Homo sapiens: one gene and its partner. The gene in region 2 interacts genetically with the main gene of each other region. Each region holds a gene or a part of one and is shown on either strand. Other genes may lie near its edges.

The links. Genes that interact genetically often act in the same process or in processes that back each other up.
Region 1: of OTUB1 (region 2) and NMRAL1, changing one suppresses a phenotype caused by changing the other (phenotypic suppression), as found in Homo sapiens cells (one study listed by BioGRID).

The regions. Positions count from the first base shown.
Region 1 is NC_000016.10:4,471,620-4,479,311, forward strand, and holds the start of NMRAL1 (nmrA-like family domain-containing protein 1), read right to left. Parts: upstream 3,007-7,692; 5' UTR 2,935-3,006; exon of another isoform or gene 2,791-2,934; intron 2,548-2,790; 5' UTR 2,514-2,547; coding exon 2,474-2,513; intron 1-2,473. UniProt on the Homo sapiens protein: Redox sensor protein. Undergoes restructuring and subcellular redistribution in response to changes in intracellular NADPH/NADP(+) levels.
Region 2 is NC_000011.10:63,989,438-63,996,456, reverse strand, and holds part of OTUB1 (ubiquitin thioesterase OTUB1), read right to left. Parts: intron 1-7,019. UniProt on the Homo sapiens protein: Hydrolase that can specifically remove 'Lys-48'-linked conjugated ubiquitin from proteins and plays an important regulatory role at the level of protein turnover by preventing degradation.

The DNA.
Region 1 (7,692 bases), on a different chromosome or scaffold from region 2:
AAAAAAAAAAAAAAAAAAAAATTCTTTATTATATGTATATTTTACCTCATAATTAAAAATAATCTATAAACAAATACTGAATTCTAGCTAATGTTATGCATGCTTTAGTATGGAAGGGCGGTGTACACATATCTGCAATTTACACAGAAATGCATCAAAAATAAGGACTGAGGCCGGGCACAGTAGCTCATAGCTGTAATCTAAGCACTTTGGGAGGGTAAGGGGGATGGGTTTTGCTTGAGGCCAGGAGTTTGAGACCAGCCTAGGCAGCAGGGTGAGACCCAGTCTCTACAAAAAATTAAAAAATCAGCTGGGCCTGTTAGCGCTCATCTGAAGTCCCAGCTACTCAGGCGAATGAGTCAGGAGGATTGCTTGAGGCTTGGAAGTCAAAGCTGTAGTGAGTGATGATTGAGCCACTGCACTCCAGCCTGGGCAACAGAGCAAGACCCTGACTCAGAAAAAAGTGTACACCAATGTTCCATGGCAGCATTATTCATAATAGCCAAAAAGTGGAAATAAATCAAGTATCCATCCACTGACGAATGGACAAACAGAATATAGTCTATCCATACGGTGGAATATTACTCAGCCATAAAAATAAGTAAAGCTGTCAGGAGTTCGAGACCAGCCTGACCAACATGGTGAAACCCCGTCTCTACTAAAAAATACAAAATTAGCTGGGTGTGGTGGTGCACACCTGTAATCCCAGCTACTTGGGAGGCTGAGGCAGGAGAATTGCTTGAACCCGGGAGGCAGAGGTTGCAGCGAGCAGAGATCACACCATTGCACTCCAGCCTGGGCAACAAGAGAGAAACTCTGTCTTAAAAATAAAAAAGTAAAGTTGGCCGGGCGCGGTGGCTCAAGCCTCTAATCCCAGCACTTTAGGAAGCTGAAGTGGGCAGATCACCTGAGGTCAGGAGTTTGAGACCAGCCTGGCCACATGGCAAAACCCCATCTCTATTAAAAATACAAAAATTAGCCAGGCATGGTGGCTCACGCCTGTAGTCCCTGCTACTCAGGAGGGTGAGACAGGAGAATCGCTTGAACCCGAGTGGCAGAAGTTGCAGTGAGCAGAGATCACGCCACTGCACTGCTGCCTGGGCAACAGAGCGGGACTCTGTCTCAAAAAAAAAAAAAAAAAGAGTAAAGCCCGGACACACACTACAACATGAACAAACCTTGAAAACATGCTAACTGAAGAAGCCAGAGAGAAAAGGCTACATATTATGATTTTATTCATATGAAATGTCCCGAATAGACAAATCCATAGAAACCAAAAGTAGATTGGAGCTTTCTAGGGGTTGGCTGGGAGGAGTAAGAATGGGGAGTAACTGTTCACGGGTTCATGGAGTTCTTTTTTTTTTTTTTTTTTTTGAGATCAGGTCTCACTCTGTTGCCCAGGCTGGAGTGCAGTGGCACAATCAGGTCACTGCAGCCTTGACCTGCTGGACTCAGGTGATCCTCCCACCTCAACCTCCTAGGTAGCTATAGGTGCATGACACCACGCCCCACTAATTTTTGTATTTTTTTGTAGAGACGAGATTTTGCCCTGTTGTTCAGGCTGGTCTCAAACACCTCAGCTCAAGCGATCTGCCCATTTGGTCCAACTAAAGTGCTGGGATTACAGGGTTGAGCCACTGCACCTGGGCCAGAGTTTCTTTTTGGAGTGATGGAAATTTTCTAAAATTGATTGTGGTGATGGTTGTACAATTCTATGAATACACTAGAAACCAGTGAGTTGCACACTTTAAACAGGTAGATTGTATAGTACGTGAATTATATCTCAATAAAGCTGTTAGAGATATTAAATATGTATAAATAAGAAAAAATAGGAATGAAATAATATGCTATCATTTGAAAAAATGATAACATGTTATCTACTCTGGCAGGATATTCAAGAAACTTGGTAACAGCAATAGATGAGGTGGAAGAGGAGGCTAGGAAGAAGATTTAATTTTGGTATCATGTTCAAGTACTCCTATTCAAATAAGTTAAGTAACTCATTTTTTTTTAATTTGGAAAGCAGGTCTGGCGTGGTGGTTCATGCCTGTAATACCTGCACTTTGGGAGGCCGAGGCGGGTCATCACCTGAGGTCAGGAGTTTGAGACCAGCCTGACCAATATGATGAAACCCCGTCTCTACTAAAAATACAAAAATTAGCCGGGCGTGGTGGCATGCCCTTGTAATCCCAGCTACTCGGGAGGCTGAGACAGGAGAATCGCTTCAACCCGGGAGGCAAAGGTTGCAATGAGCCGAGATCGTGCCATCGCACTGCAGCCTGGGTGACAGAGCAAAACTCCGTCCAAAAAAAAAAAAATTGGAAAGCAATTTGGGCCTCGTTCCTGCGACCACAGCCCCAACCTGGGTCGGGGGTCCCAGTGACCTTACCCCTCCCTGCAGACCCCAGGACGGGCGGTCTTCAGGGCTAGGCGCCCTGGCTCTGCAAGGGCCCCAGTCTGGGGTTTGGCTCACCTGTGCCTCCGAAAACCACCACCAGTTTCTTGTCCACCATGAGGACGAGAATGGGACGAATCCGGTCCAGAGATCTGGGGGTAATGGGAGGCGTGGAGTTGGGGGTGGGGCCGGGGTTCCCGCCAGGAGCGACAAAGGACACCCCCATTGTCTATGCATCGAGTATGTGTCGAAGGGGGCGGCTGGGCCCGGAGCGGCAAGACGCCTGTCCCGAGATATCGGGGTCCCGCGACCCACCTCGTGTCCCTTGGGCCCGATCCCCTCCTCCTTCCCGCCTCCCCCGGTTCCAGTCACCCGCCCCCCGGCCCGGGTCCCACCGGCTGGAGTGACCTCCTCGCCGCGGCCTGGGCGGGACAAGTTCCAGGAGCCCGGGACCCCGATTCTGCGGCCGAGTCCACTGCAGAGGCGGGGATGGAGCTGCGCGCTAGGCGCCAACTCCCTCCCCGCAGCTCCGGCCCCACCTGGCAGAGCGCCGCTCACGGAAGCCCAGCGTCGGAGGACCCCTGGCTGCAGCCGCCAATCCCGACGTGTCGGCCGAAACCCCTCCTCCGGCGCAGTTGGCTCCTCCTGGATCCCGCGGGACTCGGCGTCGTTTCCGGGTTTGCCCGCCCCAGGCACGTGCACAGTGAGTTTGTGTAAATCCAGTTAGACCAAAATGAGCGAGGTGGAGAGCCTCTTAACCGGATGCTACGGGTGATGACTGGGAGGAGGAGAAAAATTACCTCTTTATCTTGCATGAACATCTTAATTTTCAGGTATTGGGCGTCAGGCAAAGATAATTAAAGCTATGTCCATGAGTCTTATCCCTTGAGGCCTTGTCCGCTTGATATTTTCTTTGCCTAACTCACTTTTAAAATTTTATTATTTTTATTTTTTTGAGACAGTGTCTTGGTCCGTCGCCCAGGCTGGTGTGCAGTGGCGCGATCTCGGCTTACTGCAACCTCCGCCCCCCGGGTTCAAGAGATTCTCCTGCCTCAGCCTCCCGAGTAGCTGGGATTACAAGCATGTGCCACCAAGCCCGGCTAATTTTTGTATTTTTTAGTAGAGACGGGGTTTCACCAGGTTGACCAGGCAGGTCTCGAACTCCTGACTTAAAGTGATCCACCCACCTCAGCCTCCCAAAGTGCTGGGAGTACAGGTGGGAGCCACCGTGCCCAGCCCTAACTCACTTCTGAAGTTGCTGCTACTTGCACTGATTTCAGTTTTTTTTTGTTTTTGTTTTTTGTTTTCAAGGTGGAGTCTTGCTCTGTGGCCCAGGCTGGAGTGCAGTGGTGGTGCGATCTTGGCTCACTGCAACTTCCGCCTCTTGGGTTCAAGTGATTCTCCTGCCTCAGTTTCCTGAGTAGCTGGGATTACAGGCAGGAGCCACCATGCCCGGCTAAAATTTTTTTGTATTTTTGGTAGAGACGGGGTTTCAACATGCTGGCCAGGCTGGTCTCGAACTGCTGACCTCAAGTGATCTTCCCGCCTCAGGCTCCCAAAGTGCTGGGATTACAGACATGAGCCACCACACCCGGCCCACGATTTCAGTAATTTCTTTGTGTTCAGTAAAACTAAAAAATGACTCTGGGCTGGGTGCGGTGGCCTGTAATTGCAGTGATTTGGGAGGCCGAGGCGGGTGGATCACCTGAGCTCAGGAGTTCGAGACCAGCCTGGCCAACATGGTGAAACCCCCGTCTCTACTAAAAATACAAAAATTAGCCGGGCGTGGTGGCAGGCGCTTGTAATCCCAGCTATTCGGGAGGTTAAGGCAGGAGAATCGCTTGAACCCGGGAGAAGGGGGTTGCAGTGAGCCGAGATCACGTCATTGCACTCCAGCCTGGGCGACGAGCAAAACTCGGTCTCAAAAAAAGAAAAATCATTCTGTCATTCTGGCCGCTGTTTGAAGAATGCGAATAATGCAACAGGGAGATCAGATACAAGACTGGTAACCGAGGTGTCAGAGTTGAGACTCAGTTTCGCAGATTGCATTGGCAAGTGACCAAGTGGGTGGTGCCACGGTTGACAACCCTATTTCTTACATCACTGAGTGGATGTACAAGGATTAAACCACACTGGGGAAGAAAAGTGCTCAACCCTGAGGCACCCTCACACACCTCGGCTCTTGTGAACACTAGTGTTCCTGCCGAAGCACGCCTACTTACCCCGCTGAGCAGAGCCTGAGCCTGCAACCTCCAGAGACCTGGGGAAAGCCACATACTCCGCTTCCCGCCCCCGGCAAGGGCGTGTCAGCTACAAGGGGCGTGTCATCTCTAGGCCCCGCCCCGCGCTGCGTGCCCACGTTGCGCCGGCCTCGCGCCAGTCCGCTGGGCTGCAGGGACTGCGGCGCCTGAGGGAGTCGCTGACGGGCACGCTGACTGGAGGCTGGCGGACAGGCGACAGCGACCTGCGGCAGGTGAGCTGTCCGCGCCCTCCCGGGGCCTTCCTTCCGCCCGGCTTCTCGGACCGCGCTGCGTCCTTCGCGGGCCCTGCCTCGGTCCAGGCCTTCGGACCTGGGCTTGGCCGGGCCACAGCCCTTTGGGTCCCCTGCGCCGGTCTGAGGGGAGACCCGGCCGGGGGCGGCCGGAAGCTGGGTGAGGCCGGGCAGAAGGACGAAGAAGGGCGTGGAGGGGCTGTCAGGGGAGGGCGAAACCGCGGACGCCGCTCTCCAGAAGTCGTCTCCCCGGGGGCGCGGGGAGGCCTGAATGGCTCTCTTTGGCGTCCCCGTTGGGCCCACCCTCTCCCAGCGTCACGGCTATGCTGGGCGAGGTGACCCCCGGGGTCGTAGCTGGGGGCGTCGGCGGTGCAGACAGGGGATGCCGGCAGAGATTGGAGCCCGGCTTGGCTGTTTCCCGGGCTGTTGGCATTGACCGGGGCTCTGCCCTTCCTCTAATGCCCTTATCTCTATAGGAAGTGCCCCTTGAGTGGGTGTCGTGACTTCACGAGTGAACCCTGGTACGCCCTGGAGCAGAGTCGGACTGGGAGGGATCAAGTGTGGGGGCAGCCGGTTAGTCCGGACGCGGGTTTACCTATTACTTTCTGAGCGCAGTGCTCTGGGTGGATTAATTGCCCTGCAAAAGCTGCCGGGACCTCCTTGCAGTCTTTGCACGAGGCCTGCCTGTGTCATGCCATTTAAATCGCGTCTGGGCCGGGTCGGTGGCTCACGCCTGTAATTCCAGCACTTTGGGAGGCCAGGGCGGGCGGATTGCTTGAGGTCAGGAGTCCGAGACCAGCCTGGCCAACATAGTGAAACCCCGTCTCTACTAAAAATACAAAAATCAGCCGGGCATGGTAACGTGAGCCTGTAGCTCCAGCTACTTAGGAGGCTGAGGCAGGAGAATCGCTTGAACCCGGGAGGCAGAGGTTGCAGTGAGCCGAGATCACGCCATTGCACTCCAGCCTGGGCGACAGAGCAAGACTCCATCTAAAAAAAAAAAAAAAAAAAAAAAAAATCGCTTCTGATGAGCCGGTTGTCGTGGCCTGTGGCTGTCCATCCTTACGTACTGTGTTTTGTTGATGGCGCTACAAACCAGACAAGGTGGAGTGTGATTGAAGAAAGAAACGCTGGCCGGTGCAGTGGCTCACTCCTGTAATCCCAGCACTTTGGGAGGCCGAGGCAGGCGGATCACCTGAGGTCAGGAGTTCGAGATCAGCCTGGCCAACATGGTGAAACCCCGTCTCTACTAAAAATACAAAAAAGTTAAACGGGCGGGGTGGCGCGTGTCTGTAATCCCAGCTACTGGGGAGTTTGAGGTTGGAGGATCACTTGAGCCCACGAAGTGGAGATTGCAGTGAGCTGAGATCGCATCACTGCACTCCAGCCTGGGTGACAGAGTGAGACCCTGTCTCAAAAAAGAAAAAAATAAATTATCACAAGACAAAATTTGTGCTTATCAGGAGTTCACAGTTAAGACATATATAAGCTTACTTGGTGAAATTAGAAAAAGTTATCAGATAAAACATTCAGGTTTAAACACTGGTGAGGGTGTGGGAATTTGTGGAGCCTTGGAAACACACTCATTGAATGACCTCATCTACCTGGGGATGTGAAGAGGGAAATCCTGTGATTCCTCCATTGTCTGACTTGATTTCCTTTTTTCCTTGGCTGTGGCAACATGTTGAAGTGCTGTGAGTCACCAAAAGGGGGAACGTGAGCAACTCTAGAAATGCCAGTGCCAGTGAGTTACAGACAATAAAGCATTGACCGCCTTTAGCTCACCCCTCATCAAGTCTGTTGAAAACTTGTAAAATTGGACAGCTAGAGCTACCTTGATTTTTTGGTTTCCTTTTAACAGCTGACTCTCTTCACAGGACAGTTGGGCTCTACATCAGGATTGCACCCAAAACTGGAATATCACTCCTCCAGGAGGAAGATATATTTGAAAATTAGAATTGTGGGCCCGGTGCAGTGGCTCATGCTTGTGATCCCAGCACTTTGGGAGGCCGAGATGGGCGGATCACCTGAGGTCGGGAGATAGAGACCAGCCTGACCAACATGGAAAAACCCCATCTCTACTAAGAAAAAAATAATAATAATACAAAAATTAGCTGGGCATGGTGGTGTGTGCCTGTAATCCGAGCTACTTGGGAGGCCGAGGCAGGAGAATCACTTGAACCTGGGAGGCAGAGGTTGCGATGAGCCAAGATTGTGCCACTGCATTCCAGCCTGGGCAACAGGAGCAAAACTGCATCTCAAAAAAAAAAAAAAGAAAGAAAGAAAATTAGAATTGTGTATTTCACTGTAAAATTTGAAATTCAGCTTTAACTCCTTGGAAAGGAAAGAGATGAAAAACTTGACCTAGACTGGGTGCGGTGGCTCACGCCTGTAATCCCAGCACTTTGGGAGACCAAGGCGGGTGGATCACCTGAGGTCAGGAGTTCGAGACCAGCCTGGCTAACATTGTGAAACCCCGTCTCTACTAAAAATACAAAAATTAGCCTTGCAAAAAGTAGCCTGTAATCCCAGCTACTCGGGAGGCTGAGCAAGGAGAATTGCTTGAACCTGGGAGGCAGAGGTTTCAGTGAGCCAAGATCATGCCATTGCACTCCAGCCTGGGCGACAAGAGCAAAACTTCATCTCAAAGAAAAAAAAATTCTATCAGAGTGAACAATAAGTAGGATGCTAGCACATACCTGTAATCTCAGCTACTTGGGAGGCTGAGGCAGGAAGTTAATACTTGATGAGCCTAAGTTTTTGGTGTCTTTGGATGCTGCTTGTCGATCTAAGGGGTTTCCAAACG
Region 2 (7,019 bases):
CAAAGGTCACACTCCAAAGGTGGCAACTGAGCTCCCAGCAGCCACCTGCCACCCTGGGTCCCTGAAACAGGCTGCTGAATGTGGCAATGGGAGCGGCCCACTGCCCAGAGTCCTCCCAAAAGACGGCAGGAAGCTGGGCACTTAAGGACAAACTAGTTGCATGGGTCACTAAAGTTCTGCGGGGCCTACAGGACTGTACAACAACAGGTGAGTGAATGTCCTTGAGCAATGCGTTTCCTCCAGTCTTTCAGCCCAAGAGAACTTCAGGGCAAGCAAGTCAGGGCCAGGGTGGAGTGCTGGCCTCCACGCCTCAACCAGGTGGCTGGGGCCCTCTGCACAGCCCAGCTCAGCCCCGCTCCCGCCACACTGAGAAGAGTTCCCCCACCTCTAAGCCTTGCCCGCAGCCCTCCTGGGGCTAGAAACAGCCTCCCTCCTCTACTTGTTTTTTTGAGACAGAGTTTTGCTCTTGTTGCCCAGGCTGGAGTGCAGTGGCGCGATCTCGGCTCACTGCAACCTACACCTCCCGGGTTCAAACGATTCCCCTGCCTCAGCCTCCCAAGTAGCTGGGATTACAGGTGCCCACCCACCACGCACACTTCACCTGGCAAGCACACTTCACTCCCCTGGCCTGGGCACCCTCCCCTCTCCCCTACCCATCTTGCTCCTACCCCCAGCTGATGACCTTGTCTTTTTTCCTCAGCCCCCACCAGCACATCTGCCTTTGGCCTCCTCCCACAATCCTCAGAGGATCTGTTCCAGCTGCCACCTAAGCTGCCTCTCCACTCCACACTAGCCCACCCCCACCCTCAGGCTCAAGCACATCATTCCAAGCTGGGCGCCATGGCTCACACCTATAATCCCAACATTTTGGGAGGCCAAGGTGGGAGGACGCTTAAGCCTAGGAGTTCGAGACCAGCCTGGGCAACACAGTGAGACCCCCGTCTCTCTAAAAAAAATAAGTGGCTGGGCGCGATGGCTCACGCTTGTAATCGCAGCACTTTGGGAGGCTGAGGTGGTTGGATCACCTGAGGTCGGGAGTTCGAGACCAGCATGACCAACATGGCGAAACTCCATCTCTACTGAAAATATAAAATTAGCTCGGCATGGTGGTGCATGCCTGTAATCCCAGCTACTCGGGAGGCTGAAGCAGGAGAATCGCTTGAACCCGGGAAGCAGAGGTTGCAGTGAGCCGAGATTGCGCCATCGCACTCCAGCCTGGGCAACAGAGCAAAACTCCATCTTGAAAAATAAGCAAGTGAGCTGCACATGGTGGTGCATCCTGTGGTCCCAGCCACTCGAGAGGCTGAGGTCGGAGGACTGTGTGGGCCCAGGAGGTCGAGGCTACAGTGAGCTGTGATGGCACCACTACACTCTAGCGTGGGTGACAGAGTGCGTGAGACCCTATCTCAAAAAAAAAAGACATCATCCTAGGAAGTACCCCCATCATCAATTTTTCCCACCCTACTGGTTTAGACCCAACAGCATATACACATTCAGCTACTTCTTTAAAAGGAAGGGAATCCTGGACTTTACGTTTCTGTCTGGCTACCCTTCAATTTCTCTGCTTTCTTTACAGCAAAACTCCTCATGAAGCTGTCCGTGCTGCCTCCACCTCTTTTCTCCCTCGGGAGGCTTTTGCTCTAGCCAAGGTCAGCTGAACGCCCTCAATCAGAGGGGGCAAACCCAGCGCCCCACCCCCACTGGCCCCTTAGCAGAACTGAGGCCACTGGCTGTGGCCCTGCCTAGATGCCTCCTTCCCTGGGCTGGCGCCCCCACCCTCTCCTTGTCTTCCTCCTGCCTCCAAGGCCACTCCTCATCTCTCTAAGCTCTGAGGGTCAGGGATGCCACCAAACCATACAGCACCCTTCGAGACATGGTGTGTCACCTGCAAGAAAACAGTCACTGAGGCTGGGTGTGGTGGCTCACGCCTATAATCCCAGCACTTTGGGAGGCTGAGGCAGGCAGATATCGAGGTCAAGAGATCAAGACCATCCTGGCCAACATGGTGAAACCCCGTCTCTACTAAAAATACAAAAATTAACTGGGCGTGGTGGCACACACCTGTAGTTCCAGCTACTCTGGAGGCTGAGGCAAGAGAATCACTTGAACCCAGGAGGTGGAGATTGCAGTGAGCCGAGATCGCTCCACTGCACTCCAGCCTGGGCAACAAAGGGAGACTCCGTTTCAAAAAAGGAAAAAGGAAAACAGTCACTGCACACTTAGCCACTGTGCCTGCCATGTGACCACGGGCATGAGGGCTGTCTCCCATGTGCCTACCCCGCCCTGCTCAGGCCTGGGACAGCTTCCACTTTTCTTTTTTTTTTCTTTTCTGAGACAGGGCTTTCTATGTCACCTGGGCTGGAGTGCAGTGGCAAGATCACGGCTCACTGCAGCATCAACCTACCAGGCTCAAGCAATTCTCCCACCTCAGATTTCAGAGTAGCTGGAACTACAGGTGCACACCGCCACACCCATTTAATTGTTGTATTTTTTGTAGAGACGGGATTTCACCATATTGCCCAGGCTGGTCTCGAACTCCTGGGCTCATGTGATCTGCCTGCCACGGCCTCCCAAAGTGCCGCACCCGGCCAGCTTCCTCTTTGAAACTACACTCACTCTCATGGCCAGGTACAGTGGCTCACACCTGTAATCCCAGTGTTTTGGGAGGCCAAGGGGGGAGGATCAAGTTGAAGGCTAGCCTGGGCAACACAACAAGACCTCATCTCTACAAAAATGTAAATTATACTTGCTCTCTTGACGACATCAGTCTCAAGCAATTTTTTTTTTTTTTTTTTGAGACAGTCTCGCTCTGTCGTCCAGGCTGGAGTGCAGTAGCGCGATCTCGGTTCACTGCAACCTCCGCCTTCCGGGTTCAAGCAATTCTCCTGTCTCAGCCTCCTGAGTAGCTGGGACTACAGGCGCGCGCCACTATGCCCGGCTAATTTTTTTGTATTTTTAGTAGAGATGGGGTTTCACCATGTTGGCCAGGCTGGTTTTGAACTCCTGCCCTCAAGTGATCCACCCACCTTGGCCTCCCAAAGTGCTAGGATTACAGGCATGAGCCATTGCCCCTAGCCAAAGTCTCAAGGATTTAAATAGCCCCAAGTGTGAATCTCAACTCTCAACTCCAATTACGATCCTCCTATCTACCAGCCTCACCACACCTCCTCTGAACTGTCCAACAGGCATTTCCACTGAGTGCAGCTGAGATCAACCTCCGAACAACTGCTCCTCCCCGAGGCTGCCCCACCTCAGTCACCCACAGCACCCAAAGCCTTCCAGTCGCTGCCGACTCCATCACCATATCCATCCCTTCAATATGTCTGGTATCCAACTGCTTCTTACTCCTCACCTCTACCACCCGCTGCCCGCCTCCAGCAGATTTTACTGCACAAGTCTCCTGGCAGTGTCCCTGCCTCCCCTTCACCCTCTGGAGTTTATTCTCACCCCAGCAAGAGAATGGCCAGGGTCGGCTTGGCGTGATGGCCCAGGCCTGTAATCCCAGCACTTTGGGAGGCCAAAGTGGGTGGATCATTTGAGGTCAGGAGTTCAAGACCAGCCTAGCCAATATGGTGAAACCCCGCCTCTACTAAAAATACAAAAATTAGCCAGGCATGGTGGTGGGCATCTGTAATCCCAGCACTTTGGGAGGCCAAAGTGGGTGGATCATTTGAGGTCAGGAGTTCAAGACCAGCCTAGCCAATATGGTGAAACCCCACCTCTACTAAAAATACAAAAATTAGCCAGGCATGGTGGCGAGCATCTGTAATCCCAGCTACTCAGGAGGCTGAGGCAGGAGAATTGCTTGAACCCGGGAGGTGGAGGTTGCAGTGAGCTGAGATGGTGCCATTGCACTCCAGTGCACTCCAGCCTGGGTGACAGGGCAACACTCTCTCTCAAAAAAAAAGAAAAGTGACCAGAGTCACCTGCCAGATGCACCCTATCTCCATCTCCCTCAGAGTCCTTTCTCTCGCCACAACACCCCACCCCGCCCCGCCCCGCTCAGTTCCCCAGCCCCAACCCCTCATTCTCCACCAGCCACACTGGCCTCCATGCTGGCCTCAAACCATCCAGGTGCCCTCTCGCCTCGGGCCTGGGTGGGCACTGCTCTCGGACGCCTGTGACTCGCTCCCCGGTCTTTTTCTGTTCATTACTCAAATACCACCTCATCAGCAAGGCCTTCACCAAGCCCTGTTTAAAATGGCAAATGCTCCCACTCCCAATCCCCTCTTTTTTTTTTTTGAGGTGGAGTTTTGCTCTGGTCACTCAGGCTGGAGTGCAGTGGCACAATCTCGGCTCACCGCAACCTCCACTTCCCAGGTTCAAGAGATTCTGCTGCCTCAGCCTAAGTAGCTGGGATTACAGGGATGCGCCACCACACCCGGCTAATTTTGTATTTTTAGTAGAGACGAGGTTTCACCATGTTAGTCATGCTGGTCTCGAACTCCTGACCTCAGGTGATCCACCTGCCTCAGCCTCCCAGTGTGCTGGGATTACAGGCGTGAGCCACCACGCCCGGCCCCGATCCCCTTTTCATTTTTCTCCACAGCACTCACCGCCTTCTGATACCCCACATGTCCCAGAGCCCTCTTTGGCTTATCATGTCTTTCCACCCTGAACTGTAAGTTTTGTGAGGGCAGGACTTTGTCTGCATGGCTCTATCTTCAGTACCTAGAACAGCGCCTGGACCACAGTCCGTTCTCAATAAACGTTAAATGAGTAGCACACCAGGACCACAAAGAACCCAAATCACCACTGCTACTGTAGCAGCCACCATGGCCATTGTGAGCACACTCTCTGTGCCAGGGATTTGGCACAGGGCGAATAAACGTCATCCTAATTGATCCTCACAAGAGCCCATTTAGAGAGAGAGGAGCTCTCTCTGCTTGGGCTCTGCTGCCACAGCTGTCTCTGCCCAGGGAGAAAAGGTGGGCTCAGGCACAGCATACAGAATGCGGGTGCTGGGGGCACAGAGAGGCCTTTTAGACAGCATGCTCTGGACATCCAAATGTTTGATGACTCCGTGGGAAGAACCTGGGGCCCAGCCTGTCCTGTCCACTTTACCAGGGTGGTCTAGCATGAGCGGCAGGCCTTGGCATGGGGGGTCCCACTGGAGGACACTGACATAAGAGGAATGAATGAATGAAGCTCACCCCCTGTATGGGGAGAGGAGCAGCTTTGTAACCCGCTGCTTACAACCGCCCGTAACATCTCCTTCAACCCTCACAATTGCCCTGTGAGGCAGACAATGTCCCCGCCCAGAGAGAACAGGGGATCCAAGAGCTTCAGGGTGTTGCCCGAGATCACACAGCTCAAAGTGGTGAGGCCAGGACTGGAACCCAGGCCCATCAGGCTCCACAGCCAGTGCCTTCATCTCTCCACAGGCACCCTGAGGAAATCTAGCTCCCTGAGGAGGGGGCCTCAGTAGATCACAGTGCACAGATCTCACACAGCTGGATCTGGCCTGCAGGTGTGTTTGGCCCACACATTTAAAATTTGAATTAGCTGCCAACTGTTAGAAGTCAGGAGCTGTGGTTACCTCTGGCTTCTCTTGGAAAAACAGATCTGGAGACAATGGTATGGACACTCCCATTTCCCCCAGGGGCCTCTGCTCCCTATTAGTGTCTGGCTGATACTGAGCTGTGCTGCCCTCCTTGTTCACCATCTGACTTCCTGGCCACCTTCAATCACCTGGGTTACCTACCTGGCCACAGAGGCCTCCCCTACCAGTAGAGGACTCTAAGCATCTGTCATCTTCCAGGGGAAGAGAAACATTTACTAAACACCTACACTGAGCCTACCAGATACTGTTTCCACACACCCATTGTCACATTTATTTATTTATTTATTTATTTATTTTTTTATTTTTTTAAGAGACAGGTCTCACTGTCACCCAGGCTGGAGTGCAGTGGTACAATCATGGCTCAACTTCTTGGGCTCAAGTGATCCTCCAACCGCAGCCTCTTGAGTAGCTGGGACTATAGACATGTGCTACCACACCCAGTAATTTTTTGATTTGGAGAGACAAGGTCTCACTATGTTGCCTGGGTTGGTCTTGAACTCCTGGGCTCAAGCGATCCTCTGGCCTCAGCCTCCCAAAGTGCTAGGATTCCAGGCTTGAGCCACCATGCCTGGCCCCATTTCACATGTCATCCTCCCAGCTCACAGACCTAGAAAGTGGGTGGTGAAGTTTGCCTCCGTTTGAGTGATGCAGCAGGGCCCTTTGAGGAAATCTGTGGCCCCTTGACCCCACTGCTGCCTGCCTCTCCACAAAGATCCAGGAGGCAAGCTGTGGGAAACAGCCCTCTGGCAACCCTCCTACCCCACTGAGCACCAGCCTGGTCAGCCCCCGTATGGGCACCGAGATCATCAGCTCCTGCCCAGCCTGCACCTCCCTCAATCTCACAATCGCCCTATGGGAAGATGCTTTTTTTTTTTTTTTGAGACGGAGTCTCACTCTGTCGCCCAGGCTGGAGTGCAGTAGCGCGATCTCGGCTCACTGCAACCTCCGCCTCCCGGGTTCACACCATTCTCCTGCCTCAGCCTCTCCGAGTAGCTGGGACTACAGGTGCCCACCACCACGCCTGGCTAATTTTTTTGTATTTTTAGTAGAGACGGGGTTTCACCGTGGTCTCGATCTCCTGACCTCGTGATCCGCCCGCCTCAGCCTGCCAAAGTGCTGGGATTACAAGTGTAAGCCACCGCGCCAGGCCTTTTTTTTTTTTTTTTTTGAGACGGAGTCTTACTCCGTCGCTCAGGCTAGAGTACAGTGCGGGATCTTGCCTCACTGCAACCTCCGCCTCCCAGATGCAAGCAATTCTCCTGCCTCAGCCTTCCCAATAGCTGGAACTACACGCGCGCACCACCACTCCCAGCTAATTTTTGTATTTTTAGTACAGATGGGGTTTCGCCATGTTGACCAGGCTGGTCTCGAACTCCTGACCTCAGGTGATCTGCCCGCCTCAACCTCCCAAAGTGCTGGGATTACAGGCGTGAGCCACCGTGCCCGGCCAGAAGAT